Homo sapiens: one gene and its partners. The protein of the gene in region 3 purifies or fractionates together with the protein of the main gene of each other region. This does not show direct contact. Each region holds a gene or a part of one and is shown on either strand. Other genes may lie near its edges.

Region 1 (8,174 bases), on a different chromosome or scaffold from region 3:
GAAATTATTCCTTGTGTATCTGGGAACAGCAAGAGGGGGAGAATTGTGATGTCATGAAGTAACAGCTGACAACATGCTCACCTCCTAGAGCTGATGAAGATGCTGAGGGTTGGACAACAGGGACACACCTTCATTTCCTCCATCCCACACAAGAGTAGAAGATTATAGGAGATGGGTTTTCAGATCCCACCCCCTAGCAAACTTGCTCTGATATGCACCTGAGAGCAAGGAAGGCCTAGCTAGGAATGTTTGGTAGGTTGGCTGGGTGAGGTATGAGGGCAGCAGAAATGCAGAGCAGTCTTGCCAGAAAAGGTGAGAGGGTCATGACAGAGTGTGACAAACAGGTTCACTCAATGCCGATATCCAAGTCTCACCTATATTATGTGCATGTCTCATTTCAGTTGTCATAATTGTCTCTGTAATTTCCTCCTGAGTAGCGGTCATAACCACCCTGGTTTCTGGGGGGGAAAAAAAACACACAAAAGTTTTCTGGTACTGCATTATATATACCACTGTAATTATATGCGTCACATTTTACAGTATGGGTCATAACATAAACCTTACGTATCAAAAACAGGATATGTTAAGCATATGAGTATCACAGTAAACAGTTTTATGGCATACGATTTATACGCAGTATATTAAATCATATTACATGTTAAAGCAATATAGTTATATAACCCACACAGCACAACATATATAGTATACTTTACCATGTCGCAACTATATGACTACACAATTAACTTAAAATGCTAAATTTCATACTCATTTTAGGTACACATTAGTAACAGCAAGGTGTGGTATGCATGAACACCCAGGCGCTGAGTTCTTAAGGAGAGGGAAGCAATAGGAGAACATCCCAGCCCTTTGGCTACCCACCTGCCATTATAGTCTCTGGAACGTCCATATCCATATCCATACCCTCCAGGTCGACTGTCATAATACCTGCCACTCCCATAGCCCTGGTCCCCACCACCTAGAGCAGAAAAATATTTAAATGGCAGTTGTCCACACATAGGCAACTCTCCCTCTCACCCCATGATCAAAACGATCACTGCACTCACCTCTAGAGTAGCTGCGACCACGCCCATGGGCCCCAAAGCCACCTCCTCTGGTTCCCCGAGCAGACTTGCCTGCATGATCCACACGGATCTGACGACCATCCAGAGACTAAGTGTGGGAGACACAAGGATGATGGGTTGGCAGTCAGTCAGGGCAATGGTGAGGGAAGAGCAGGCAAGGGTAAGTGGGCAAAAGAGGCCAAAAATTCCTGCTGGGCACCAGGTTCTGGGTGCCATGTTCCAGAATAAGCTCCTTTACCCCAGAATGGCTTCATCAGGAGCTATAGAATCCCACACAAAATGACCTGAATGCACCATGTTCCCCTTGCTACTACTTACATCTTGACTGAACTCAGGCTGAGTTCTCCTCCCCACTCCTCTAAGCTGCCCGACTATCAGGGCTAGACAGACACCTCTCTTGGTTTGAGGCTTCAGAGTCCATGTCAGAAGACTCACGAGGTCCTCTCCGGGCCAGGCCCACAGGTCTGCAGACTCTACTACCTAAGCCCAAGGCAGGTCAACCATCCACAGGTGGCTTCTCGGCCTCATGCAGGACCAGTCGTCGCCTCCCAGGCGGCCAGGCTCTGTCTGCCGCTGCCCTCCACCCCCTAGAACAAAAGGCAGTCATGCTCCTGTGAGTGGGCACTGCGGGGCTTGGTGGCCACGCTGCCCCGAGCAGACACAGAGGGAAAAACAAAAAGAATGAAGGAAGCCGCAGATGGGGACAAGGTCCCTCTGCAGATAGGAGGCCCCACCTCTCCGTTCATGGCTCTCATGGCAACTGAAGCATGCTCTGGGTTGGTGAAGGTGATGAAACCAAAACCCCTGGACCGCTGAGTCTCCCGGTCCTTGACAACGACCACTGTGAGAGGGAGAGAAGATGGAGCAATGTGGACCAGTCAGTACCCCAAAGGTTAAGTAGCAAAGGGTGGCCGGAAAAGGAGATGGCATAGGTAGGGAAAACGGAGCGCTCCCACTAATCCCAAAGACGCTTCCCCTCATCCTTAGTCTACACCATAGGCTTAGGAAGAAAAAGAATTTGGAGGCGTGGGTCCTAACTTTTCAGTTAATACTCCTTGAAATGCAAGGATCCCAGACTTTCTCTCACCAACCCCCATTGTGAGTATGGCCCGTCTCACCCTCAGAGATAGGTCCGAAACTGCTGAAGTGGTCTTCCAGTGCCTGCTCGTCGGTGTTAAAGTTGAGCCCTCCCACGAAGAGCTTTCCTTCTTCAGAGGACATGGCAGTTCAAGTCCTGTGGGAAGAACATGAAGAATGGTGGCAGGAAGGAGAAAGAAAATGGAGATGTGAGAAAATAGCGAGACGGAAAGCAGAGAAAAAGCACAGAAAATAGACAAGAAAGAGGAACAAAATATGGGTAACTACAGAAAAGCTGAGAAAGGCGGCCAATAAGGTGGTAATCTGAGGAGCTGGCTCAGCGCAGCCACCATTAGGGGGCCACATTGCGCATGCTCTCACATTCATAGCCGCCACGCCCGTCATTTTGTGCCACTGCGCAAGCCCAGAACATCCCTGCGTTCCCTTAACGCCGGCAGAACAAGATGGCGGCGGCCACGTGGGATAAGGAAAGTAAGTGTCGGCTGTCGCGTGGTCACTGCCACCACCGACGCCACCAGTCCCTCCCGGTAGGCCTCACACTCAGATACAGCGCGCCGGCCTCCCACCAACCGAAATGTTTCACCTCCAAGCACGGGACCCGCCCGTCCCAGAGAAAGCCAAGCCTACGTGTCAGTGGCCATTACTCTCCCCACTCGCTATTCCCCGGTCACGGCCGGCGCGGCGCGTGTGTGGCGAGGAGCCGCCGTTTCGCAGGACATATGCAACTTACCTGGAAATTAAAACGTAAAAAACCCGGACGAACAGCGAGCTCGGAGGAGCACAAAAAACAGGGACGGGGCTGCGCCGGAAGACGATTGATAAAGAGTACGTAGCGAGAACGTCCCGGAACGTTCCCCTTGCGCGTCCCGGCGTGCGTGCTGATTGGCTGAGGCCAGCAGGAGCGGAGTGGTGGGGAGAGGAAGGGACAGCAAAGCGAAGGGAGCAGTGTTCTCCGCGAAATGGGGTGTTTCCGGAAATGGGGTGTTTCCGGAAATGGGGTCGACTTTTGAACAGCTGGTGCACCCTAAACGTCAGCATCCCCCCCACAACCGGCTGAGCTGCCTTTATCCCTTCCACAAAGGAACCTTCTCAATCTCATACTACTTGCTGTCCCTGACATCATCCTCCCGTCCTTGCCATCATTTCCCCCGCTGGATCGGATGTCTTCCTCACCATCGTAGTCGTCTTCCTCTAGGTCCCTGCCATTCTCTGATGTTAACCTCCTTCACCTTCTAGTTCTTTAACCTCATACCCTTTAAAGGCCTGACATTTTATCCCCCACCGTCACTGATGTCATCACCCTTCACAGTCCATGATGTCAGACCCAACGTTTTAAGGTTTGACCCTGACTCCTACTCTTTCTCCTCTGTGCTCAACATCTAGCCGCCTGTCATGGGACCCTTTTCCCTGGCGTCATTCCATCTCATCTCTGACTTCAGCCCTCACCCTTGTCTGACTGCTGGCGTGAAGCCAGCCCCTTAATTTTCTCACCAATAGACTGCCTGAGATGGCTTTTACAAAACAGGATGCTGGCCGGGCGCGGTGGCTCACGCCTGTATTCCCAGCACTTTGGGAGGCCAAAGCGGGCGGTTCACGAGTTCAGGAGTTCGAGACCTGCATGGCCAACATGGTGAAACCCCATCTCTACTAAAAATACAAAAAAAAAAAAAAAAAAAAAAAAAGAAAAAAAAAATTAGCTGGGTGTGGTGGCACGTGCCTGTAGTCCCACCTACTCGGGAGGCTGAGGCTGGAAAATCGCTTGAACCCGGGAGGCGGAGGTTGCAGTGAGCCGAGACCACGCCATTGCACTCCAGCCTGGGTGAAAACAAAACAAAACAAAAGAGGATGCTACGATCTTCAGAGGTTGTAAATCCCAATCCATAGAGCAATTTTTGCTCTCTTCGAAAGTAACTGAGCCCTTGCCGGGCGCAGTGGCTCATGCCTGTAATCCCAGCACTTTGGGAGGCCGAAGTGGGCAGATCACAAGGTCAGGAGTTCAAGACTACCCTGGCCAATATGGTGAAACCCTGTCTCTACTAACAATACAAAAAAAAAAAAAAATTAGCCGGGCGTGGTGGTAGGCACCTGTAGTCCCAGCTACTCAGGAGGCTGAGGCGGGATAATCGCTTGAACCCGGGAGGTGGAGGTTGCAGTGAGCTGAGATCATGCCACTGCACTCCAGCTTGGGCGACAGAGCAAGACTCAGTCTCAAAAAAAAAAAAAAAGTAACTGAGCCCTTGATTCACAGAAGGGACTTTCGCAATACACAATAGACTTATCCCAATCAAGTAGTGTCTGAGCCCACTGTTCACAATTTAGTCTTCAGTGTCTTGGCCACCTTTACAATAAATGGATTTGACAGATTTTTCACTTCTGAGCGCCACATCAACGAAGAATAAGTTAGTTTGCCCTCAGAGGCTAAATTTCTTATCCATAGAATGAATTTGCCCAACACAGACCAAATTTGCTAACATACAGAATACAGTACATCCATATTCCTGTTGGGGTAATTCCCATATTTATCTTCCTGTTATTGTCAGGGATTCCTCACATAGTCTAATTATTAATCCCTTAGGTGTTGGAAATAGCCTCTCCAGCTCTGGCATTTGTGTTATTAACTTTGTAAGCAGTAAACTTAGTTGAATAAAGATCCATAATTTTGATATAATCATTTTTCCCCCTATGTTCTGTGCTTTTTTCTGAGACGGAGTCTCACTCTGTCGCTCAGGCTGGAGTGCAGTGGCATGATCTCAGCTCACTGCAACCTCCGCCTCCCAGGTTCAAGTGATTCTCCTGCTTTAGTCTCCTGAGTAGCTGGGATTACGGGCATGTGCCACTATGCCCAGCTAATTTTTGTATTTTTAGTAGAGATGAGGTTTCACCATGTTGTTCAGGCTGTTCTCAAACTCCTGACTTCATGATCCGCCTGCCTCGGCCTCCCAAAGTGCTGGGATTACAGGCGTGAGCCACCACGCCCGGCCTGGTCTGTGCTTTTAAAGAAATCATTCTCTTTCCCAGGTCACAAAATGTTCCCCTACAGTTTCTTTCTTTCTTTCTTTTTTTTTTTTTTTGACAGAGTTTCGCTCTTGTTGCCCAGGCTGGAGTGCAATGGCACTATCTCGGCTCACTGCAACCTCCGCCTCCTGGGTTCAAGCAATTCTCCTGCCTCAGCCTGCTGCGTAGCTAGGATTACAGGTGTGTGCCACCACACCTGGCTAATTTTTGCATTTTTAGTAGAGACAGGTTTTTGCCATGTTGGCCAGGCTGGTCTTGAACTCCTGGCCTCAAGTGATTCGCCTGCCTCGGCCTCCCAAAGTGCTGGGATTACAGGCATGAGCCACCGCACCCGGCCACATTTAGGTCTTTAATCCATGTAGAGTTCGTCCTTGTATATGGTGTGAGATAGAGCTCCAATTTTATTTTTCTCTGTGTCATGAGCCAGATGCCCCATCACCATCTATTAAGCAATCTGTCCCATCCCTGTGTGTGTTTTACCACCTCTATCATGTATCAAGTTCCATAGATATATGGGTCTGTCTCTGAGGTGGTTTGTTGCTGGTTTTGTTGTTATTGTTGTTTTTAAGAGATGAGCCCAGGCTGACTCCTGGCCTCAAGCATTCTCCCCAACTCAGCCTCCTGAGTAACTGGGATTACAGGGGAGCACTATTGTACCTGACTTCTGAGCTTTTTTTTTTTTTTTGACAGAGTCTCACTCTGTCGCCAGGCTGGAGTGCAGTGGCGCGATCTTGGCTCACTGCAACCTCCGCCTCCTGGGTTCAAGTGATTTTCCTGCCTCAGCCTCCTGAGTAGCTGGGACTACAGGCGCGTGCAACCACGCCCAGCTAATTTTTGTATTTTTAGTAGAGATGGGGTTTCACCATGTTGGCCAGGATGGTCTTTTTTTTTGAGACGGAGTCTCGCTCTGTCGCTCAGGCTGGAGTGCAGTGGCGCGATCTCGGCTCACTGTAAGCTCTGCCTTCCAGGTTCACGCCTCAGCCTCCCGAGTAGCTGGGACTACAGGCGCCTGCTACCGCACCCAGCCAATTTTTTTTTTTTGTATTTTTTAGTAGAGGCGGGGTTTCACCGTGGTCTGGATCTCCTGACCTTGTGATCTGCCCACCTCGGCCTCCAAAAGTGCTGGTATTACAGGTGTGAGCCACCGTGCCCGGCCTTCTCTTCTAATTGGTCTACTTCTTAGCTCTTGGGCCAATATAGGTTTGTTGTTGTTTTTTTTTTCCCTTTTATTACTAACACCTTTAATATGTCTTAATATCTAGTGGGCAAATCCCCATCATAACGCTTTCTTTGAAGGCTGTCTTAACTGTCCATGATTCATTACTATTCTAAATTCTAATGTAAGTGTATTGCAGTTCTAACAAAAAGAAGTAATGAGGTCAGGCATGGTGGCTCTCGCCCAAATCCCAGCTACCTGGGAGGCTGAGGCAGGAGGATCGCTTGAACCCAGGAGTTGGAGTCTGCAGTGAGCTATGATCGTGCCACTGCACTCCAGCCTGGGCAACAAAGTGAGACCCTGTTTCAAAACATTAAAAAAAAAAGTAATGGAAGTGTTATTGAGAGTGCATTGAATTTTTACATTTTGGGAGAAATAACGTCTTTTTTTTTGAGATGGAGTTTCGCTCTTGTTGCCCAGGCTGGAGTAAAATGGTGCAATCTCGGCTCACTGCAACCTCCGCCTCCCGGGTTCAAGCAATTCTCCTGCTTCAGCCTCCTGGGTAGCTGGAACTACAGGCACCCACCATTATGCTCGGCTAATTTTGTATTTTTAGCAGAGACGGGGTTTGTCTATGTTGGTCAGGCTGGTCTCAAACTCCTGACCTCAGGTGATCCACCCACCTCGGCCTCCCAAAGTGCTGGGATTACAGGTGTGAGCCACCATGCCCGGCCAAAATAACATCTTAATAATATTAACTGTGGAGGTTTTAAGATATGGTCACACTCTGATACTGTACTCGTCAAGAGTTGGAGCCTAACTTCCTTCCACTTGCATGTGTGCTGGACTTAGTGACTCAATTGTAAAGCACAGAATGAGGTGGAAGTGATAGTGTGTCATTTCCAAGACCAGGCTGTAAAAGGCACATCTGCTTCATGCTCTCTGTCACACAGACTGCTCATTATGTGGGACATTAGCTGGTATGTCATGAGCAGCCCTATGGAGGGATCTAGGTGGCAAGAAAGTAAGGCCTCTTGCCAACAGCCATGTGAGCAAGCCTTCTTAAAGGTGGATCCCAGCCTTCAGATAACTGCAGTCCTGGCCAACATCCTGATTGTAGCCTCATGAGAGGCTCTGAGTCAGAACCACCCAGTTAAGCCACTCTCAGAATCCTGACTCTCCAAAACCATGTGAAATAATAAATGTGTATTGTTTTAGCCACTAAGTTTTGGGATAATTTGTTAAAAATAACTTATATATTACCAAAATCTTTCCAGCAAAGAGCATAAAATGTCTCTCTTTTATTCAGATCAATTTCTATTGTTAGAGTTTAAATTCTTTAAAATAGAGGTCTCTTGTATTAAATTCATTCCTACTTTTTTTTTTTGTTGGTTATTGCTGCTATACAGAAATGCTTTTGATTTTTACAGGTTGATGTTGATTTTGTATTGGGAAACCTTGCTGAACCCCTTTTTTTTTTTTTAAGATGGAGTTTTACTATTGTTGCCAAGGCTGGAGTGCAGTGGTGCGATCTCGGCTCACTGCAAACTCCACCTCCCGGGTTCCAAGTGATTCTCCTGCCTCAGCCTCCTGAGTAGCTGGGATTACAGGCACGTGCCACCACGCCCAGCTAATTTTTTGTATTTTTAGTAGAGATGGGGTTTCCTCATGTTGGCCATGCTGATCTCGAACTCCTGACCTCAGGTGATCCATCCGCCTCAGCCTCCCAAAGTGCAGGGATTACAGGTGTGAGCCACCACGCCTGGCTGCTGAACTCTCTTATTAGTCCTATTAGTTGTTTTTGTCATTCTGTTTGTTCTTTT
Region 2 (7,362 bases), on a different chromosome or scaffold from region 3:
TAGTTTGCCCACATTCAGATAAAAAATATCTCAAAAAAAAGTATGTGGGAAGAATAAGTGATAGGTGTACAATCAGGAAAATAAAAGGGAAATTATTAAATCCAGGATAAAAGTTGTCAGTGATCTAGAGAACTATATTTCAAACAATCTTGGAAACGTAGATGTTGAATCTGGATTTAAGCAAATACTGGGAGGATGTGGGGGTATGTAACAGTTAAGTTTTCATCTACACAGCAGAAAATCAGTATATATCTGTAAGTAACAAAGAAATAGCTGTATGAGGACACTCCAGACATAATGGTACATATATATACTAAAGTAAAAGCGAGAAGTTGGAAGTGGTTGTTTCTAAGGATAAAAAAGGAACAATACCGCAGATGACACATGACCCATATTATAGTCCAGGTATAGGCAAACATTTTCTGTAAAGGGCCAGGAAAGTTAAGCAGTTTAGGCTTGTGAACCATATGGCCTCTGCCACAACTCCTGGGCGGTGCTATTTTAAGACAAAAGCAGTCATGTAGACTGAATGTAAACAAATGAGCCTGGTTTTGATCATGGACACTAAAATTTAAACTTCATATAATTTTCATGTATCACAAAATATTATTCTTCTAGATTTTTTTTTTGTAGCCACTTAAAAATATAGCTCTTGGGATGCACAAAAACAAGCAGGGGGCTTGATGTGGCTTGTGGGCTGTCATCTGTCAACTCTTGTTATAGTCTATACCAAAAAGCACGGTCCATTTAGAAACAGAATTTGCTAATATACTCCTTTATTGTCCAGCAAGTACTTGATCATCATTTAAAAATTCTTACCTGGCGGCATAAGTTTCATAAGTACTCTTGCTCCATCTCTAAGGGGTGGCATATTTAGGCTGCTACCTAAGTCTGCAACTTGCCAAAGAAAAGAGATGTATCTGGGATGCAGTGACATTATCTAGAATATAAAATACACAAAATAATTACCTCTAAATTATTTACTCCCGTTTTATAAAAGCCCAAGTAAGTTTCTCTGTGTTAATCCCTATACTTTTACTTATGAAATTTCTACTCTTTGAAATAGTCTGACTTTCCCATCTTTTAATCCCTACAAATCCTTAATAGTGCAGATCAAATACATCATCAAGTCACTTCCAGTCATTTTTTTGTGATAGCTCCTCTCCTGTTCTATTAAACCATTTCTCTCATATATACAATTTAGACTCTGGACATAACAAAAGGCTGCCATGCCCACTACCAAATTCTTAATCCAGTTGTTATAGAGAGCCAAATCCTCCTGACACTGGAGTGGCTGCTACTATTGTAACCATTAAAATTTCTGTCGGGAGGGGCGAAAGGAGAGCTTAAAAATATTTCTTTGGCTATATGTTACTGACAATCTGATAAAGATTACAGGTATTTTCCTACATAGTTCTTGTTTTCATTTATTTATATTTTTAGAGATGGGGTCTCACTCTGTTGACCAGGCTAGAGCATAATGGCACAATCGCAGCTCACTGCAGCCTAGAACTCCTGGGCTCAAGCAATCCTCCTGCCTCACAGCCTCCCCAGTAGCTGGAATTACAGGTGTGAGCCACCATGCCCAGCTCATATATAGTTCTAAAAGAACTATCCGTTTTGTGGTATAAATTTTAGAAAGTGATACAGCTGACTCTTGAACAACACAAGTTTGAACTGCACAGGTCCATTTACATGCAGACTTTTTTCCCAATCAAATGTGGACAGAAAATTCAGTATTTCCAGCAAGCAAAACCCAAGTATATGGAAGGCTAACTTTTTGTATATCTGGTTGCACAGGGTCATCTGCAGCATTTTGGGTATATGCAGAGGTCCTGGAACCAATTCTCCACGTATACGAGGGATGACTGTTTTCCTCTAAATTTATACATCCAATAGTGTTATAATTAAGCTCTAATTGGTTAATTTTATGTAAAAGTAACAATACTATACCTATGGGGAAATTATGTTTTAAATTCCAACTGTGTTACAATTACCTTTTAGAGGGATCCATTCTGAAGTTGGTGGTTAACTGTATTTTTTTGTCTCATTAAACTGTAAGCTCCTCAAGAAAAGAAAGAACCACTCTATATACTTTATTCTCAAAAACCCTAGCATGATGCCTTACATACAGTAGTTCAAAACTGTATCTACTCACCACTCCAGGCAAACAGCTTTCCACTTCTGGATTGGGACCATCACTGTAATGATTACCATGGTTTCCAGGAGATCCAGTGGAGGAATCAGAAGAGCTATCAGGGCTTGAAGGCATATTGGAACTTATCTGTGTAAGTTTGGCTGTAATAAGCTGAAAATTATATACTATGTTAATATCAAAAACAAGGAAAAATACTTACACAAAACACAAAACTTAGTGATATACCAACCAAAAAATCCGAAAGACTACATGCTATACTTTAATGCTATAACTCTAACACCTAACACAGTCCCAAACATAACAAATGCTCAATTAGTATTTACTGATTAAACGATAGTCTCTGGTTTGATTTTATTGAAAAATCTGTTAACTATACATACATACCGATTTATCTTTTAAGTTTAATTGTCCAATCAACTTTCTATCATCTGCAGGATCTATCAGCTCACCGCCCACAAAGAGCTCAATTTTTGTATGGGCTACGTTGGCTTTAATACGATTGAGAATACATCGTCGTACTGAACCAATTGTATCATTTGTATGAGACCATACCTCCAAGTCATCAACCTGTCTGCCCTGGTTTGGAAATCGAACTACAAAAGAGAGGTGTTTACCGCGGAATGCTCTGGGGGGAAAAAGAAAGACAGACATCATCATATTCAGCAGACTCTGAAATTTTGTTGCCAAGAAAATAATGCTGGGGATTTAACACTAAGTATTTTCTTATTAAACAAGAGGATGTGAATTAAAGATACTTAATACAGCTTGAGAATCCCTTATATGAAATGTCTGGGACCAGACAAATTTTGGATTTCTTGGATTAGGGATACTCAACCTGTATTACTTTCAGTATCTTGAAAATAAGGCCAGGCATGGTGCCTCATGCCTATAATCCCAGCACTTTGGGAGGCCGAGGCGGGTGGATCACTTGAGGTCAGTAGTTCGAGATCAGCCTGGCCAACATGGTAAAACTCCATCTCTACTAAAAATACAGAAAATAAGCCAGGCTTGGTGGTGGGCGCCTGTAATCCCAGCTACTTGGGAGGCTGAGGCTGGAGAATCGCTTGAACCTGGGAGGCAAAGGTTGCAGTGATCCGAGACTGCACCACTGCACTCCAGCCTGGGCAACAAGAGTGAAATGCAAAAGAAAAAAAAATATTGCTCCTTTTAACTAAAAATATAAATAATATTTAAAAACATAATCATATTCTATTGTTGTTAGTCTTGTATCTATGGTTGCAGAAAATGAGGTGTCTACTAAAATGAAATTAAATCCAAGATATAACGCTTATTTTTATGCTGTAAAAGCCCAACTCACTAAGACTATTTTTAAATGTAAAAGGTTGGCTGGACGCAGTGGCTCATGCCTGTAATCCTACCACTTTGGGAGGCCAAGCAAAGAAGATCCCTTGAGCCCAGGAGTTCAAGACCAGCCTCGACAACATAGGTAGACCTTGTATTAATAAAAAAAAAAATTCAAAAAAAGAAGGTAGAGTTTACCTTTTACATTTAAAAGGTCGTTTTACATTTTGTTAAAAGCATCAACAAAAATGCCACAATGCACTTTATTTTTTTTCTGGAAAAAAGCCTTCATATCAAAATTCACTCCAAAATGCTATTTATATTGGTATAGTACCTTTTTTAAAGTAAAATACAAAATAAAAATCATATTCAAGAAGCAACTGTATATAATTTCATGATTAATAAACAAAACTCTTTAAAAAAAATGATGGCATTGACTACACAAAACATCCCAAAACTATAAACACCATTTGAAAATATTTGTTATATGCCATGCAAGGCAGCTTTTAAGAGCTCTTTACAGGCCAGGCACTGTAGCTCACGCCTATAATCCCAGCACTTTGGGAGGCCAAAGCAGGAGGATTTGCTTGAGCGTAGGAGTTTGAAACCAGCCTGGGCAATGTAGTGAAACCCCACCTCCACAAAAAGTCAAAAAAAATTAGCCAGGTGTGGTAGCCTGTGCCTGTAGCCCCAGCTACCTGGGAGGCTGAGGTGGAAAGGTCGCTTGAGCCCGCAGTGAGCCATGATTACACCTCGGCATTCCAGCCTGGGTGACAGAATAAGACCTTTTCTCAAAATAAACAAATAAACAAAAACACTTCAACTGCAAAATGCCACTGCAACACTTAATGAGTAATAATGTCAAAGACAAAAAGAAAACTAGAAAACAACTTAAGAATGCCTCACCCAAAAAACCAAAACAAAACCAGATGGGAGAGTGGGGGAGGTTATTAAAAAAAATTAGATGAAATGAAAATGTTTTTAATGGGCAAAGACAACAATTTTCAAACGAGAAAAATTTCTGCTCTCCTTTTACCAAATGGCTAGGAAAATATCAAATAATTAAGAATTAGCACCAATAGATTAGTTATTCACAAACCTCGACATAGGGAGAATTGTTCTTTCCTCATGATAATCACTGTCACATTCATTTATATATTCCCTTAAAACAGTTAATACTCGAACCATTCGAACAGCTTCCTGTCTTGCACAATTAACACTGTCTTTGTCACCATCCAAAACACACAATGTGTCATAGGAAGCCTTCAGACGATCAAAACAAGACTGAATGAAGTCTTCATGGATCACCACCTACAAATATCAGGCCAAATAAACACAGTTAAAATTGCTTTAAAATGTAAAAACCAAATATTAATCCAATTAAAGATGGCAATGGCTGATTTAATTGTAGCACTCAATTAACAACAGTCATATTTAAGTAGAGAATCCATACAATAATAAAATGTATGTTTATTAAAAGGAAGCTAGCATTACATAAGTTAACAAACATAAATTAGTCAAAAGTGAACTTCAGGATTAGGTGTTAGCATCAAAATGAATTCACATAGACTTTCTTTGCCATTTCAACATCTAATAAATAGTTATATTAAAAATAACCCAATCACTTCAAGACAACTAACAAGGCAAGATTCATTTAGATAATATTTTTTCTCTTTTGTATAAGAGAAATGGGGGCCGAAAGAATTATATATGGAAGTTTTAATGCACATCAATCCTCACCTGATTGACTTGTAGTCTTGGACCAAGGTTCGTGTATATCTCTTTGAGGAGATCTATAGCTCTGCTGGCAATATCATCATTACTCTGAATCACGACCTGGTTTCAAAATGATAAAAGTATTCATCCCTTTCAACATATATTTTTGTTGGGCATTTAAATTCAAACCATATCCTCAGTTATCTTAAACACACTATTCAATGATTTAATGGTAAGTTGACTTTGATAATCAAGTAAAATTAAGTGAGAAGCACAGACCAAAAGAAAGGGTAATAAATGCAAAATGAAAGTCTCTGAATAATTTAAGAATGAAAGGTACATTTTTGTAAAAATAAAATACGCTTTGACCACTATTATTTAACCCTATAATTTAATATCTTGATAACCAAGTGAGACACTCAAGAAGAAATTCAAATTAGTTGACAGGAAATAAGAGATTACATGAAACACAGTTTAGCATAAAGGACTACTCTACCCCCAGTTTCTATAAATCTTTATCACTCATCTAATTACATTAGTGGTTTCCAAACTATGTTCAGAACCCTAGGGGACTTTGAGGAAGTGTTTCAGTGTTGGCCCCTATAAAAGGGTTGGGGAGGGGAAAGGGGATAAGCATGGGGAGACCAAGTAAGAAAACATATTTTCCTTGTTCAATTCAGTTTACTTTTGTAGTGTGGTGCAAATTTTGAGTTTTAAGATGTGTTTCTGCTGTTAAAACAATGTTGAAAACCACATACTTAATTAAAAGCTTTTAAATACTCAAATGCCACAATAAACATCTTTATCTATGGTTTGCAGGAAAATATGTGAGACATCCAAACAATATAAACTGCTGTATAACAGGTCAGATTAAAGATAGGCATAATAGAGTAGTACTATAAAAATAGATTAGCCTTAAAAAGATAGTATTTTATTCCCCCAGGTATTTAAAAATATCACAAGGTAAACAGTGCCAATAAAGCATATACTCATAATCTATACTAAACACAAGTCCTCTCTTCTGTCCTCTATTTTAGTGTTAAACATTGAAGAGGAGGAAACAGATCGACACTGAATGAAAACTCGGGAAGGAACATTAATATCCACGGGGGAGGAATGAAAGATTTGTATGTTTAGTGCACATCTATGGAATACACAGATACTAAGCTAAGACAAAAGGAACATCAGTGGCAGGAGGAGGGAGAGGAAGAGAGAAGAAAAAGCCCACTGACAGGTGACATAATAAAAATGAACAATTCCTAACTACACCAAATTCCTGAGACAAACATCAGAGTAAAATACACAATTTATATGCAAAATTACAATTCCTTACGTACATGAAAAAGTACATCAGACACCATTTACAGAGTTCCTACTTTTGACTTACCCTCCAAAGGTAATCTAATCCTATTAACTCCAAGTCATCCATCATATAGGCTCTCCTTTTTGCTACTAGTTTTCCTTCTCGACAATTCACAGCTTTGAAGAATCGCTCAAAACACTTCATTCCATTTTCAGTTAACAGAGAAGGATCAAGCTGAAGCACATTACTTTCAAAGAAGTCCTTATTAATATCAGGATCTAAGTCTGGTTCATCCCCCATCAACTTGGAATACCACTTAAAACAGGCTTCACGATCACAAAGGTAAACTGCATTCTCAGCTAAGCATTTCCATATTTGTTTTGCCTGAGGAGCACATAGCCACAGCTGACCATCCTTCAATAAAAATCTTGAAAAAACATTGAAAATTGGCAATTAGATTTATGTAATTTTTATCCGGAAAGGCAATCTGTATTACCTATAAAATACATTTATCACCATTATATTTTAACTATAGATAAAAAGATATTCATTCTTTCAAAATAACCTATTTCTCTACTTTTATCTGGTACTAAAAAAAAATCCCCACTAGATATTAATTAATTCAACAAGCACACACTGAACACCCACTTTGTGCCTGAAATGCAGCTAGCTGAATTAGGAATAAAAGATTCATTCCATGAACCTTTAGTTTTTGAAACCAGACTTTTGGAAAGAAGCATGTTTAGTAGCTTGAGTTAAAAATAAAAGACTTAGGCTGGGCACAGTAACTCACGCCTGTAATGCCAGCACTTTGGGAGGCTGAGGTGGGCGGATCACCTGAGGTCAGGAGTTTGTGACCAGCCTGGCCAACATGGCAAAACCC
Region 3 (5,572 bases):
AACTTCGTTGAACAAGTGTAGGCTGGCCTTTGGACAAGGGAAGACCACCCTACCTAAAACAGCCCTTCCCTGCCACTCAGCATCACTCTTTCCTTATTCTTTCTAGCATTCATCTCTAAAATTACACCCATTCATCTCACAAAGAATGATTTTGCTTCTGCTATATTCCAGATACTGTGGATGCAGTAGTGAAATAGACTACAATCTCTGCCCTCACCGATCTGACAGGATTTATTTGTTAACCTGTTCCTGTCTCTCCTACCAAATATGAGATCCATGAGGGTAGAAGATTGTCAGTCTTGCTTACTGCATATTTCCAGCACCTAAATAGCCTCTGGTATATGGGTACAACAGACAGCAATGTTTGTCAAAGAACTGCATCCATGACATCCTCAGCATGGCATAGGAAACTGGTCAAACAATTCACCAAAGTGATTTTATTCCCATGCAGAGTTCCTTATAGTGCACTGTCTTAGTACTATTCTACAAATGGCCATTATATAAAGACTTAAATTAAACCTCCATGATATCCTAGTATTTTCTAAATGTTGAAAAAAAAAAAAACAAGTTTAGTCATCAAGAGAGATTTTTCTGTGCAAAAAAAGAAAAAACAAACAAACACACACACAAACACACACACACACCAAAAATCCCCCAGTACCAGATAGCCACAATACTAGAGGAGGGAGTAAATGCATATGAGGAAAAAGGATTCAAAATAAATTTTTATTTGCAAAATTAAATAAAAAAAAAAAAACAGGAACAGAAAACTAGTCCGAATCAGGTTCCTTCTTCTTTCTTCTCGTCCCTTTTGGATGAGTCCCAGACTCTGTTTTTTCTTTGTTGTGTTCAGTTTGTTGTGTCATCCACTCTTTTTCTAGCTGTTTCAGCATGTCTGGAGTGAGGAGTCCTTGCTGCACCAATCTGGAAGCAAGGGACAGCTCTCCTGCATCGGGGCTGGGTGGCTCAGTAGCTTTACTCCCTAGAGCTTTGGTGCCGCGTGTCCTTCTAGCTTGGCTCTTTAAGGTTCCTGACAATCGTGACTGGCTCCCTGATGGAAAGCCCTCCAAATTCAACAGCTTATGCGTCTCAGACATTTTAATCAATTTAGTGATATTGTGCACACCATCTTGGATAATACCATCTAGTTCTTTCTGGAGATCTCGAATAAGGCTGGCATCTGGAAACATATCCATAAATCGGTAGCTGGGAAAAAGACACATTAGCATTATAGCAACAGCTCTTATCGCAGTCACTGGACAACTCTCAATGGCACACCTACATCATGACATTGATAAATTCTAAATGTTCTTTTTGCAAACTCTCTTCAGTGCCTTTGCTCAACCTTGATTTCTGCCCCCACATATCGGAGGAATATGTCATCCTGAGGGTGGGTCAGCACTATACCTCAATAGACTCTGATATACTCCTGGAGAGGGACATGCCCCTCCTTTGAGAATCACTGGCCTAGAACAGGACTTCTCAAATGATAATGTACAAGTGAATCACCCAGGGATCTTGTTAAAATGCAGAATCTGATCAAGTCAGGCATGGGCCTGATACTCCTTAGTTCTAACAAGCTCCCAGGTGATACCAATGCTTTTGGTCCAAGGACCATCCTTTGACCAGCAGGAGTCCAGTGGACCTTCCTTCTCACCTAGCCATCTTAACTAGAATTGCAAGAACTCAAGTCATTTTTGGAATGGGAAACCATTCCATCAGTTGAATTGCCTTTATGGACAATAGACATAATATAGAGCATCTTGCAAATATGTCCATAATTTGAAATAGAAAAACAAATTCATAAAACCTTTAATTTGTCCTACTAGAAAAATGAGAGCACATAAAGGAAAAATGTTGGTACCTTAGCCACAAGTAAAGATCCAAGACATCGTGGACAGCTTCAAGATCCATGAGGTCTTTAATATTCTTAGGTGGAAGTAAAGGCCATTTGATGTATCGGCGTAACCATGCAAAGGTCAGGGGCTCATTCCTGCTATACTGCCTGGCAAACTGAGAGAGAAAGAGGAAAAGGGTTTCAGAGAAGTGTCAGAATTCCCTTAAGTCTATAATTAGAAAGAGAAAAAAAAGAAAGCAAAACAAAACATTGTGGTTGTATTTCAATAGACAGGTGGTTTCTTTTCTCCTTTATACTCTTCTACATTTTAAAGAACATTTAATACTTTATAAGGCCAGGTACAGTGGCTCACGTCTATAATCCCAGCACTCTGGGAGTCTGAAGCGGGTAGATCACTTGAGCCCAGGAGTTCGAGACCAGCTGGGGCAACATGGAGAAACCCCATCCATACAAAAAACACAAAGAATTAGCTGGGCATGGTGGTGTGTGCCTGTGATTCCATCTACTCCTCAGGAAGCTGAGGTGGAGGATTACTGAGCCCAGGGAGGTCAAGGCTGCAGTGCGCCATGATCGTGCCACTGCACTCCAGCAGTGAGACCATTTGGAGAAAGAAAAAACAAAAAAAGATGATTTCCTTCTTTTTCTAAAACCAGGGTAATAATATGTGCAGCAGAAGTTCAAGGGCTACTCTGGGCACACTACCTATAGGGTATCCCTGCTCCACAAGGAGCAGTTAAAAAAAAAAAGAAGCTGTAGAAGGACTAACTTTCCAGGGCCTAAGTCTGTTAACTCTTATTTAGGAATATGTGATGTTCTAAAGCTATGGACAGACAGTACCTGAAGACTCCTATTTCTATCTCATATGTAATAGTCCTATAACCTCAAATACGAGCTTAAGTTTCTCTATCTTGTTAATGTCCTCCCTTATTTTTTATTTTTTTGAGACGGAGTCTCGCTCTGTTACCCAGGCTGGAGTGCAATGGCACGATCTTGGCTCACTGCAACCTCCGCCTCCTGGGTTCAAGTGATTCTCCTGCCTCAACCTCCTGAGTAGCTGGGATTACAGGCGCCCGCCACAACACCCAGCTAATTTTTGTATTTTTAGTGCAGACGGGGTTTCATCATGTTGGTCAGGCTGGTCTCAAACTCCCGACCTTGTGATCCACCCGCCTCGGCCTCCCAAAGTGCTGGGATTACAGGCGTGAGCCACCGCACCTGGCTGTCCTCCCTTATTATATAGAAACCCTCTGAGGTGGCCTGGTGCAAGGCTGGTCAGAAGTCAATCTTGGATCTGCCTCCTGCGAGCTGTGTGGCTTTGGCCAAGTCAACACTCTTTGCTTCAGCTTCCTCACTGGTAACGTGAGACATCACAGCCCTGTCTTGAACCACAAGACACTGCTGGGGAATGTGCTTTCAAAACCATGTTGCATCCCAGAATTAGGCAATATTATACATCACCTGTACTACAGAAGATAGACATACAACCACACAGTAAGACCCCTCAAGCAAGAGTTTAAATAAAATCTTCAGCTTCAAGATTCAAGCTGATTTCAAATGATTCATTTCCTGATTAGGGGAAATTATCTCTAAATGCTTAACCTAAGCAAGGTTAATACTTCAGAGAGGAAGAGCAGTTTTAGATCAATTGTAGTTAAATAATGCCACAATTTTGTTAAATTCAGTCTGGTCCACTCTGCTAAGTTTAATAAATGCCAAGTAGGATAGCCATAAAGGGTAGAAATGTGACCACACTACCTGCTAGGCAGGACAGGCCAAGCATGAGTTCTCAAGTTATCTTATAAAGGCAGTGGCTCTATTTTTTTTGGCCACAAACAACTAGTGGAAGCCCAATACATAAAAGAGCTAAGTAAGGAGCTATGCAGAGAGAGCAGGGAGAGATGCCCGCCCATCCATCCATCCATCCATCCATCCATCCAGCAGCTGGCCCTAAAGGAGCTCCATGGAGCACAGCTTCCAAATCACAGTCCTAAGGGGCATCCTAAGTCATTAATGTGATTGAGCTCTTTCATAGTTCAGTAATGACAAAGATCAGGAAAAAAGGAAAAGCCTCTAGATTTCATATTCTAATTTTTAAACAGAAAACACACGGAGCGGCCGGGTGTGGTGGCTCATGCCTGTAATCCCTGCACTTTGGGAGGCCAAGGCGGGTGGATCACTTGAGGTCAGGAGTTTGAGACCAGCCTGGCCAACATGGTGAAACCCCATCTCTACTAAAAATACAAAAAATTAGCCAGGCATGGTGGCGGGCACCTGTAATCCCAGCTACTCGGGAGGCTGAGACAGGAGAATCGCCTGAACCTGGGAGGCGGAGGTTGCAGTGAGCCAAGCTCATACCACTGCACTCCAGCTTGGGCAACAGAGTGAGACTTCATCTCAAAAAGAAAACACACCACGCATCATGGCGCACACCTGTAGTCCTAGCTACTCAGGAGGCTGAGGTGGAAGGATCGCCTGAGCCCAGGAGTTTGGGGTTACAGTGAGCTATGATTGTGCCACTGCACTGCAGCCTGGGCAACATAGTGAGACCTTATCTTAAGAAAACAAGCAACTGTTGACCTGCATGTTCCAGAGACTCCCTACACCTTAGTAAAGAGCTTCTATTCACTAGAATAGCTGTTTAAAGGATGGTGTGAATGGTGCCAAGGCCATGGGACTGAGTTCCACTCAGGTCAGTTTACAGCAGTTCAAGACTGTTCCATAAACTTCAACCTTATGCTAGCTAAGTTTTTCACAAATGCCAGCTCTAAGAAACATATTTTCTAGGTAAACATCTGGACATGGAAGATCTCTAACACATATTATTAAGAGAAAAAGAAAAGGCAAGTTGTGAGTAATTCATTAAGATAACGTTGATAGGGCTGGGCACAATGGCTCATGCCTGTAATCCTAGCACTTTGGGAGGCTGAGGCAGGTGGACTGCTTGAGCTCAGGAGTTCGTGACCAGCCTGGGGAACATGGCGAAACCCTGCCTCTACAAAATATACAAAAATTAGCCAGGCATGGCACATGCCTGTAATCCCAGATACTCAGGAGGCTGAGGCACGAGAATCGCTTGAACCCAGGAGGCAGAGGTTGCAGTGAGCTGAGATGACACAACTGTACTCCAGCCTCAGCGACAGAGTGAGACTCTGTCTCAAAAAAAAAAAAAAGATAATTTTTTATGGGGAAATGCACCCTCACAACAAATCTAGTGTTTCCACATGAACATGCACATAGGCAAACGCAATGAAAAACAGTCTGCAAAGATACACACAAACTTACACAAGTAGTTATTTCAGAGGACTAAGATTGGGGAGGGAGCCACATTTAAGCTATCTGTAATGTTCTCATTTTGTATAAAGAGAATGTATGTATTATTTATGTAATTTTTTTTTTAAAGGGCAGAGTCTTGCTATGTTGCTGGAGATGTTCTCGAACTCCTAGGCTTAAGCAATCCTTCCTGCCTCCCAAAGTGCTGGGATTACAGGCATGAGCCACAGCACTGGACTATTTATGTTATTTAAAAAATAAGTTTAGAGCTAGATTTGATTAGAATATAGCTCATATGTAGAATGCTCAGGCCTACAGAGGAAATGGCAGTGAACCTCAGTGAGTCAGGACAAGATTCAGAGAAGAGGAGGCCTTTGGGTTTAGTGGGGTGGGGAGAGCATGCAAAGCAGAGGAAATAGGGCGGGAGGTGAGAGAACATGTTAT
Region 4 (7,841 bases), on a different chromosome or scaffold from region 3:
TGTGAAACCCCATCTTTATAAAAAATAAAAATAAGCTAGCTAGGCATGGTGGTGCACACTCGTGGTCCCAGCTACTCAGGAGACTGAGGTAGGAGGATTGCTTAAGCCTGAGAGGTCGAGGTTGCGGTGAGCTGTGATCGTGCCACTGTACTCCAGCCTGGGTGACACAGCCTGACCCTGCTTCAGAAAAACAAAGACAAAAAAGAACAAACACCAGAGGTATGTGTCCTGCGGTAAAGTGCAGGGATGGTGGCGGTGGATTTAGATGCGGTGGGAACATCTAAGGAAAACTGGGCTCTGCTGCAGCTCTACTCCCAACAAATTTTGATGATCCTCAGGCAAGACACAAAGACATGCTATAAACTGAAATTTGTTACCATATACTTTTTTTTTTTTTTAAAGACAGTCTCGCTCTGTCACTCAGGTTGGAGTGCACTGGCACGATCTCGGCTCACTGCAACCTCCGCCTCCCAGGTACAAGCGATTCTCCCACCTCAGCCTCCCCAGTAGCTGGGATTACAGGTGTGCGCCACCATGCCCAGCTAATTTTTGAATTATTTATTCCTTTTTTTCTTTTCTTTTCTTTTTTTGAGACAGCGTCTTCCTCTGTTGCCCAGGCTGGAAGGCAGTGGTACAATCTCGGCTCACTGCAACCTCCACCTCCTGGGTTCAAGTGATTCTTCTGCCTCAGCTTCCTGAGTAGCTGGGATTACAGGTGCCCACCACCATGCCCGGCTAATTTTTGTATTTTTAGTAGAGACGGGGTTTCACCATGTTGACCAGGCTGGTCTCAAACTCCTGACCTCAGGTGATCCACCTGTCTCGGCCTCCCAAAGTGCTGGGATTATGAGCCACCATGCCTGGCCTACTTTTTGTATTTTTAGTAGAGACTGGCTTTCACCATGTTGGCCAGGCTGGCCTCGAACTCCTGACCTCAAGAGATCCACCTGCTTCGGCGTCCCAAAGTGCTGGGATTACATGCCTGAGCCACCGTACCTGGCTTGTTACCATATACTTTTATAGCACAGTACTTCACATTGATTAAAGAACTCTCATACTAACTGTGTCATTTAACATACACAACCACCAAGCAAAGGAGACAGGACAAACAGTAGCATCCCATTTCCAAGGCTGAGTGCAGTAATGGAAAAAATAAGAGTTTTTATGAATAAGACAATCTGAGTTCAAATCCCAGGCATCTTGTTCAACTTTTCAGAGGCTTTGTTTCATCCTAAGTAAAGTGTAGACAGTACATACACCTCATGGTCTTTTAGAATGAGTCAAGGATTGAGTACTGCACGTATACAGTACTCAATGTTTCCTTCCATCATTCCACAGAAGGAAGGGCTACAAGTTCACACACCTACTCTGACTTTAAAGCTCCAAGCAGATTATCTTTCAACTCCCATGCTCAACCTTTCCGTGCTCAGATTCAAGAATGTAACTCAGCATCTCTTTAAAAGGTGTTTAAAAGATTAGTCACTGAGATACTCTACTAAAAGTTTTTTGTTCAAGTAGATTTGTGAAATGTCACTCTCTTGAAATCTCACAAAGTGTGTATGTGTGTATATATATGTATGATACCGAAGGTTCTGAGAAGTCTTGCAATAAAGAAATCTATTTGAACTCATTCTAACTAGCATTTCCCAAAAGTGCATTTAATGGAATCCTTTTTTACATAATTACCATAAACATCCACACAGACCTAACTTTCTTTTAAACATACTTTTAGGAAAAATGGTTTTGATAAATTCATGTCTAACAAATTATAATAATAGATTAGATTATAATAGATTAACAATATTAATAACAATAGATATTATTATAGGACAGGGCACAAGAAATTATCCTTTAAACAAGATCCCTAAATCATTCTTTTGCAGCCTGCATTGAAATTGCACATTGCCTAGCGTCAAATTCAGAAAAATTTATTTAGGCAACTAAGACATTTTTATTTTTGGATTTCAGAATAAGTCTGCCACAGACACAAAGATTCCAAGAAGTGGCTCATAATGTCATCTAGCAGAAGACACACTTGGGGAAAAAGGTGGGGGAGGGGTATTATGTTTTGTTGCAAAATTGATTTTGTATGAGGTTTCTTACTCCCCAAATCTACCTTCAGAAAACGGTAGTATCTAATGATCTAATGCCACATCACTACCTCTCCTGTCCTTATCCTTGGTCTCCTGATGACCGCAGAAAGCAAGAGAGAGCCAGAGTGGAACGAGTGAGCTGTTAACTATAAATTACAAAAATGAGGACTCCTTTTTTCTCTGAAAACCAAGAAAGCGGTTACTCTGTCACAATCCAAAAAAAAAGGAAATTAATCAATCATCAGTATTTGTCCTGAAATTTTCCGCAGAGGTCTCTGGTGTGATTAAAAACGTGGGGGAAGGTCAGGCGCGGTGGCTCGCGCCTATAATCCCAGCACTTTGGGAGGCCGACACGGGAGGATTACCTGAGGTCAGACCAGCCTGGTCAACTAAAAATACAAAAATTAGCCGGGCGTGGTGGTGCGCGTCTGTAATCTCAGCTACTCGGAAGGCTGAGGCACCAGAATCGCTTGAACCCCGGAAGCAGAGGTTGCACCACTGTATTCCAGCCTGGGAGACAGAACAAGACTCTGTCTCAAACAAAACAAAACAAAACAAAACAAAACGTGGGGAAGAGGCCGGGTGCCATGGTTCACGCCTGTAATTCCAGCACTTTGGGAGGCTGAGGTGGGTGAATCACTTGAGGTCAGGAGTTTGAGACCAGCCTGGTGAAACCCTCTTCTACTAAAAATATAAAAATTAGCTGGGTGTGGTGGCACATGTCTGTAATCCCAGCTACTGGAGAGGCTGCGACAGAAGAATCGCTTGAAGCTGGGAGGCAGAGGTTGCAGTGAGCTGAGCTCACACCACTGCACTCCAGCCTGGGCAACAGAGCGAGACTCCGCCTCAAAACAAAAACAAAAACCGTGGAGAAAATGCTAAACTCGATTTCTTCTGAACCTATGCTAAGATGTCAAGGTACTGTGATTCTTCTAAAAGAATTTTAAAGGTTGTTATGTTTGGTGTCCTAAAAGTGTACATGGATTTTATATTATAACCTACATCAAGAAACTCATTCAGGCCAGGCGCCTTGGCTCATGCCTGTAATCTCAGCACTTTGGGAGGCCAAGAATTCCAGACTAGCCTGGGCAATATGGCGAAACCCCGTCTCTACAAAAAATACAAAAATTAGCCAGGCATGGTGGCTCTCCCTTCAGTCCCAACTACTCGAGAGGCTGGGGCAGGAGGATGCCTTAAGCCCAAGGAGGTAGAGGCTGCAGTGAGCTGTGATTGCACCACTCCACTCCACTCCAGCCTGGGAACAGAGTGAGACTCTCAAAGAAAAAAAAAAAAAAGCCTTATTCACAGATAATTTTTTTTAAAAATGGAAACTAAAATAGAATTTAAAACCCAAGCTGCTCAGTTTCTTGGAAGATGGATTTTTCCTACTTGGTAATATACTTTGTATATCTCGACTATTATTGTGCATGCAAGCACCTCTAAGAAGTACTTGTATCTGCAATGAATTCTTAAACCTCAGGGAGCCAAATAAAAAGACAAGGCCCGAGGAATTCTTTCAAAAATTAAAGTAACATTTCATATTTGCTTATTCTAACAGACAAAGAATAAAGAAGGAATCCGCTAAGTTGCAAGCTGAGGTGCAGACAAGTGCTGGTTCACAGTGACATCCTAGAAGGAATGCTCTGGATAAGAGCTTCAAGCTTCTGTGGTTTTCTGAGGAAAGTGAACGGAATCTAGACGTGTCCTATAGCTCAAAAAATCAGCGCTATGGACCACAGCGCCTAACAGAGTAAAATAATACACTGTGCAGTTTGGCCACTAACAGCAAGAGTGGGAAGGGGCGAAGAGGAACCTTGATTGCCCGACACCAGGGCCACCTGAAAAGTCATCTTGACACTTCAGTCTTTCCATTTTGAGATCGGAAGCTTTAAGGACCATTAAATCGCTGCCGCTGCCACACCAGGCCCGACGGAGCAGAAAGGCTGCGCTCACCTGCGGAAGCGACCGGGTGCACACCTGCCGGGTGGCGAGGCCCGCACCGTCACACCCCGCCCCGGCTTACCTGCCCTTCGGTGATTTTTAGCGTCAACTTCCATCCCTTCCCACCCATCTGGATCCAACCAAGCGCAAGGGCGGGGGAGGGAGAAGCTAGTGTCGCGAGGAAAAGCATCCCCGCAACCCACCGCAGGCTTTCTCTCCTTCCTCCCCATTCCACACAAGAGGCAGCCACACCGCCTCTCCTAACCCTCGTCTCCAATGCAAGGCCTGAAATACTTAGAAAAAATAATAACTGTTTTTAAGGAAAAGTAACATCCCCGCTCCCTTCCGCCCCTCACCTTCACGAAAGCAATCGGGGTTGTGGTACCTTCGATATCTAACAGGATCACGGTGACTTCGGCGGGGACCGAAAGCACGACCATTTCCCTACCGGATGCTACGGGACTCGGCCTGCTGTTGGGGAGGGCGGAGGGCGGCGCCGGCTGCGGCTGCGGCCCCCGGTACCGTCTTGGGCTTCCGGCGGCCCCGCGCGATCTCGGAGCCAGCGACCAAGTGCAGCCCGCCGCGCGTGGGGAGAGGACACTTCTGCACACCTGGAACTGGAAAAGGCGGCCGCCCAGGAGCCCTGAACTCGTGAGCAGGACGGGGCAGGAGCCCGAGACCACGTGGGCAGGAAAAGGGGCGGCCCTTGACGGGTTCGGCGGGGCGGGGAGGGTGAAGGCGCCAGCGCCGATTGGCCGCCGTCAGGCCTCGAACTGGATCCGTCAAAATGGGCCTCGCGTGGGCGGGAACAAAGAAGCGAACGCGGGAGCAGGGTGCGCGAGAGCGCGCCCTCCGCAGACAGGTTGAGCGAGCGGGAGAGGCCCGGGGCACGTGCAGAAAGGAGCCCCGCGAGTGGCGCGCCGGGGATGTGAGTGCCCCTTGCCCTCTACTGAATCCAGCCCCCTCCCCGCCCACCGCCTCCGCCTTTGCATAGATACAGTCATCTGGCCAGCCCCCGCCCCTCCTCCCGGCGTCAGCCCGCCAGAGGCCGCGCGGGGCCCGGGCTTCGGCCGATCAGCCCGGGAGGCCCCGCCGCGCCCCCTTGGCCCGCGCGCCCGTGGTCACAGTGGAAGAGGCGCCCGCGCTGCGCTGCCCGGAGGAGCCGTCGCGCGCCCGCTTCCTGTTCGGCTGGTTCCTGCCAGCTCGAGGACAAAACACGCGTGCGCGCGGCGGGCGAGCGCGCTCGCCGCCTCAGTCGCCAGCGCCGGGCGCAGTCCGCCTTTTTCCGGAGCAGACTGGCCGCGGTGCTAGTCGGTAGCAGCGGCCGCCGCAGCGGCTCCGCACTGGCGAACCGAGGGCAGAAAAAGGCGGGGTTGACGGCTTTTTGGTAGGAGTGGGCTGGACCGGACGCCAGAGACAAAGGCTCCCAAGGCAAGAGGGACTGTGGCCCTGCGTCGGCTCTGCTCGGGACTGCTGACCCCAGGAATTTACGCCCCTTCGTTTTTCTCTTCTGATTCTTCTCTTCTCCCAAGCCCGCGTCCCCTCACGCGTGGCCTCTCTCCTTGCCGGGAGGGCCGCGATGGAGGTCCCGCCCAGGCTTTCCCATGTGCCGCCGCCATTGTTCCCCTCCGCTCCCGCTACTTTAGCCTCCCGCAGCCTCTCCCATTGGCGGCCGCGGCCGCCGCGGCAGCTAGCCCCGCTCCTCCCTTCGCTCGCTCCCAGCTCCGCCCGGCAGGGGGCGCGCCGGGCCCAGCGCCACGTCACCGCCCAGCAGCCCTCCCGATTGGCGGGCGGGGCGGCTATAAAGGGAGGGCGCAGGCGGCGCCCGGATCTCTTCCGCCGCCATTTTAAATCCAGCTCCATACAACGCTCCGCCGCCGCTGCTGCCGCGACCCGGACTGCGCGCCAGCACCCCCCTGCCGACAGCTCCGTCACTATGGAGGATATGAACGAGTACAGCAATATAGAGGAATTCGCAGAGGGATCCAAGATCAACGCGAGCAAGAATCAGCAGGATGACGGGTACCGCACGCTTCTTCCCCCGCTCCCCCTCCCCCAGCGCGCCGCACGCGCCCTTCGTTCCTCGTGAGCCGCGCGCTGCCCCCATTCTTTCTCAGAGTCGATTCCCCGCGTGCCTTCTGGGCCCCACTAGATTGGAGGGAAGAGGAAAGTAAGAGATCGAGGGGGTGACTGGAGAGACCCGGGAAGAGTGGGGGAAGGGCGGAGGGGTTGGAGGAGGAGGGCGGCGGCGTCTGTGTCCCGAGCGCGCAGGCGCCGCGTGGGACCCGGGGGGGAGGGGCCGGCCTCCCAGCGCTGCACGCTGCAGCTGCCGCCGCCTCTTCATTGTGTCTCTGTTACCACTCGGCGCGGTTTTCCTGGGAAGAGTTTTAGAGGACTGAGTTGGGGCACAAGCAGGCGACTGGTACCCAGATTCACAAAACGTGTTATGATTGATGAGTTCTCTGGGTGGAACGTTGGCTTGACAGCTGAGAACGAAGATGGACCTAAGTAAGATAAGATGTGAGGGATTCATCTAGGAAGTTGTGCCTTCTACCTAAAGGAATCTGGGCAGAACCTTTACTGTATTTTATTGGTCTCTTTTGAGCTTTGCTTTATGTAGTGCGGACAGTGAGCTGTCCGCTGGTTTGAGTAACTTCGTTGGGATATTGGGATTTTTGTGTGACATAGATTAAATGTAAACATGAATTAAATTGCCTACACTTAGGGGGTAAATGTCCCTGTTTTTATTTCACGATTTAATTCCAGAACTGAAGGATCATTTGAGTTATTGTTAATTTTTTTTAAAAACACTTTTATTTCTAGTAAAATGTTTATTGGAGGCTTGAGCTGGGATACAAGCAAAAAAGATCTGACAGAGTACTTGTCTCGATTTGGGGAAGTTGTAGACTGCACAATTAAAACAGATCCAGTCACTGGGAGATCAAGAGGATTTGGATTTGTGCTTTTCAAAGATGCTGCTAGTGTTGATAAGGTAGGAACTATGTTTTGCATTGTGCTGCTTTTGTGGTGTTTTGCAAATTTTTCTGGGGGTTATATGGTGCTGTCAGATTAAATAAATCTGTCTTGTAGGTTTTGGAACTGAAAGAACACAAACTGGATGGCAAATTGATAGATCCCAAAAGGGCCAAAGCTTTAAAAGGGAAAGAACCTCCCAAAAAGGTTTTTGTGGGTGGATTGAGCCCGGATACTTCTGAAGAACAAATTAAAGAATATTTTGGAGCCTTTGGAGAGGTGTGTGATTATGTTTACACATGTTAAGCTTGATGTGTTTATAAAATGTTCAATCCTTGTCCGATTTATGCAGGGCAGATTCATGTTTCCTGTAAGAGTAGAATTAAATGACTGCTCAAGTCGCTTCCAGTGACTGTACCTTGATTTCATTGCTGCTCTGATGGAAACCCAACTATCTAATTTAGCTAAAACATGGGCACTTAAATGTGGTCAGTGTTTGGACTTGTTAACTAGTGGCATCTTTGGGTACAAAATAATATTAATTTCTCTCAATGCTTCAAATATACAACAAATCACTGTAGGCTGATGTTGATCATAAAGCAGTGATGTCTGTATAGAAGTCACCCGATAAGAATAACATGTTTAAGTTGAAGCCTGAAAAGGCCTTTGGCATTCTGACACTGTAACGTTTTACAATTATGGGATGACGTTGAGTGTGCATCTCGATTTCAGATTGAAAATATTGAACTTCCCATGGATACAAAAACAAATGAAAGAAGAGGATTTTGTTTTATCACATATACTGATGAAGAGCCAGTAAAAAAATTGTTAGAA

The links.
Region 1: the proteins of SUPV3L1 (region 3) and RBM3 purify together in Homo sapiens (affinity purification with mass spectrometry; 2 studies listed by BioGRID and IntAct, with this or other methods). This does not show direct contact.
Region 2: the proteins of SUPV3L1 (region 3) and USP9X purify together in Homo sapiens (affinity purification with mass spectrometry; 2 studies listed by BioGRID and IntAct, with this or other methods). This does not show direct contact.
Region 4: the proteins of SUPV3L1 (region 3) and HNRNPDL purify together in Homo sapiens (affinity purification with mass spectrometry; 3 studies listed by BioGRID and IntAct, with this or other methods). This does not show direct contact.

What each region holds. Positions count from the first base shown.
Region 1 is NC_000023.11:48,569,310-48,577,483, reverse strand, and holds the start of RBM3 (RNA-binding protein 3), read right to left. Parts: upstream 3,001-8,174; 5' UTR 2,911-3,000; intron 2,317-2,910; 5' UTR 2,304-2,316; coding exon 2,201-2,303; intron 1,924-2,200; coding exon 1,817-1,923; intron 1,171-1,816; coding exon 1,065-1,170; intron 977-1,064; coding exon 880-976; intron 459-879; coding exon 398-458; 3' UTR 375-397; intron 20-374; 3' UTR 1-19. UniProt on the Homo sapiens protein: Cold-inducible mRNA binding protein that enhances global protein synthesis at both physiological and mild hypothermic temperatures. Reduces the relative abundance of microRNAs, when overexpressed.
Region 2 is NC_000023.11:41,165,416-41,172,777, reverse strand, and holds part of USP9X (ubiquitin carboxyl-terminal hydrolase 9X), read right to left. Parts: intron 6,907-7,362; coding exon 6,564-6,906; intron 5,297-6,563; coding exon 5,201-5,296; intron 4,772-5,200; coding exon 4,560-4,771; intron 2,784-4,559; coding exon 2,543-2,783; intron 2,309-2,542; coding exon 2,159-2,308; intron 941-2,158; coding exon 820-940; intron 1-819.
Region 3 is NC_000010.11:69,204,234-69,209,805, reverse strand, and holds the end of SUPV3L1 (ATP-dependent RNA helicase SUPV3L1, mitochondrial), read right to left. Parts: intron 2,014-5,572; coding exon 1,865-2,013; intron 1,207-1,864; coding exon 771-1,206; 3' UTR 713-770; downstream 1-712. UniProt on the Homo sapiens protein: Major helicase player in mitochondrial RNA metabolism. Component of the mitochondrial degradosome (mtEXO) complex, that degrades 3' overhang double-stranded RNA with a 3'-to-5' directionality in an ATP-dependent manner.
Region 4 is NC_000004.12:82,427,463-82,435,303, reverse strand, and holds the start of HNRNPDL (heterogeneous nuclear ribonucleoprotein D-like), read left to right. Parts: upstream 1-4,841; 5' UTR 4,842-5,613; coding exon 5,614-6,056; intron 6,057-6,857; coding exon 6,858-7,026; intron 7,027-7,124; coding exon 7,125-7,286; intron 7,287-7,739; coding exon 7,740-7,841. Other genes in the region: ENOPH1 (enolase-phosphatase E1), read right to left, coding at 4,391-4,474. UniProt on the Homo sapiens protein: Acts as a transcriptional regulator. Promotes transcription repression. Promotes transcription activation in differentiated myotubes. Binds to double- and single-stranded DNA sequences. Binds to the transcription suppressor CATR sequence of the COX5B promoter.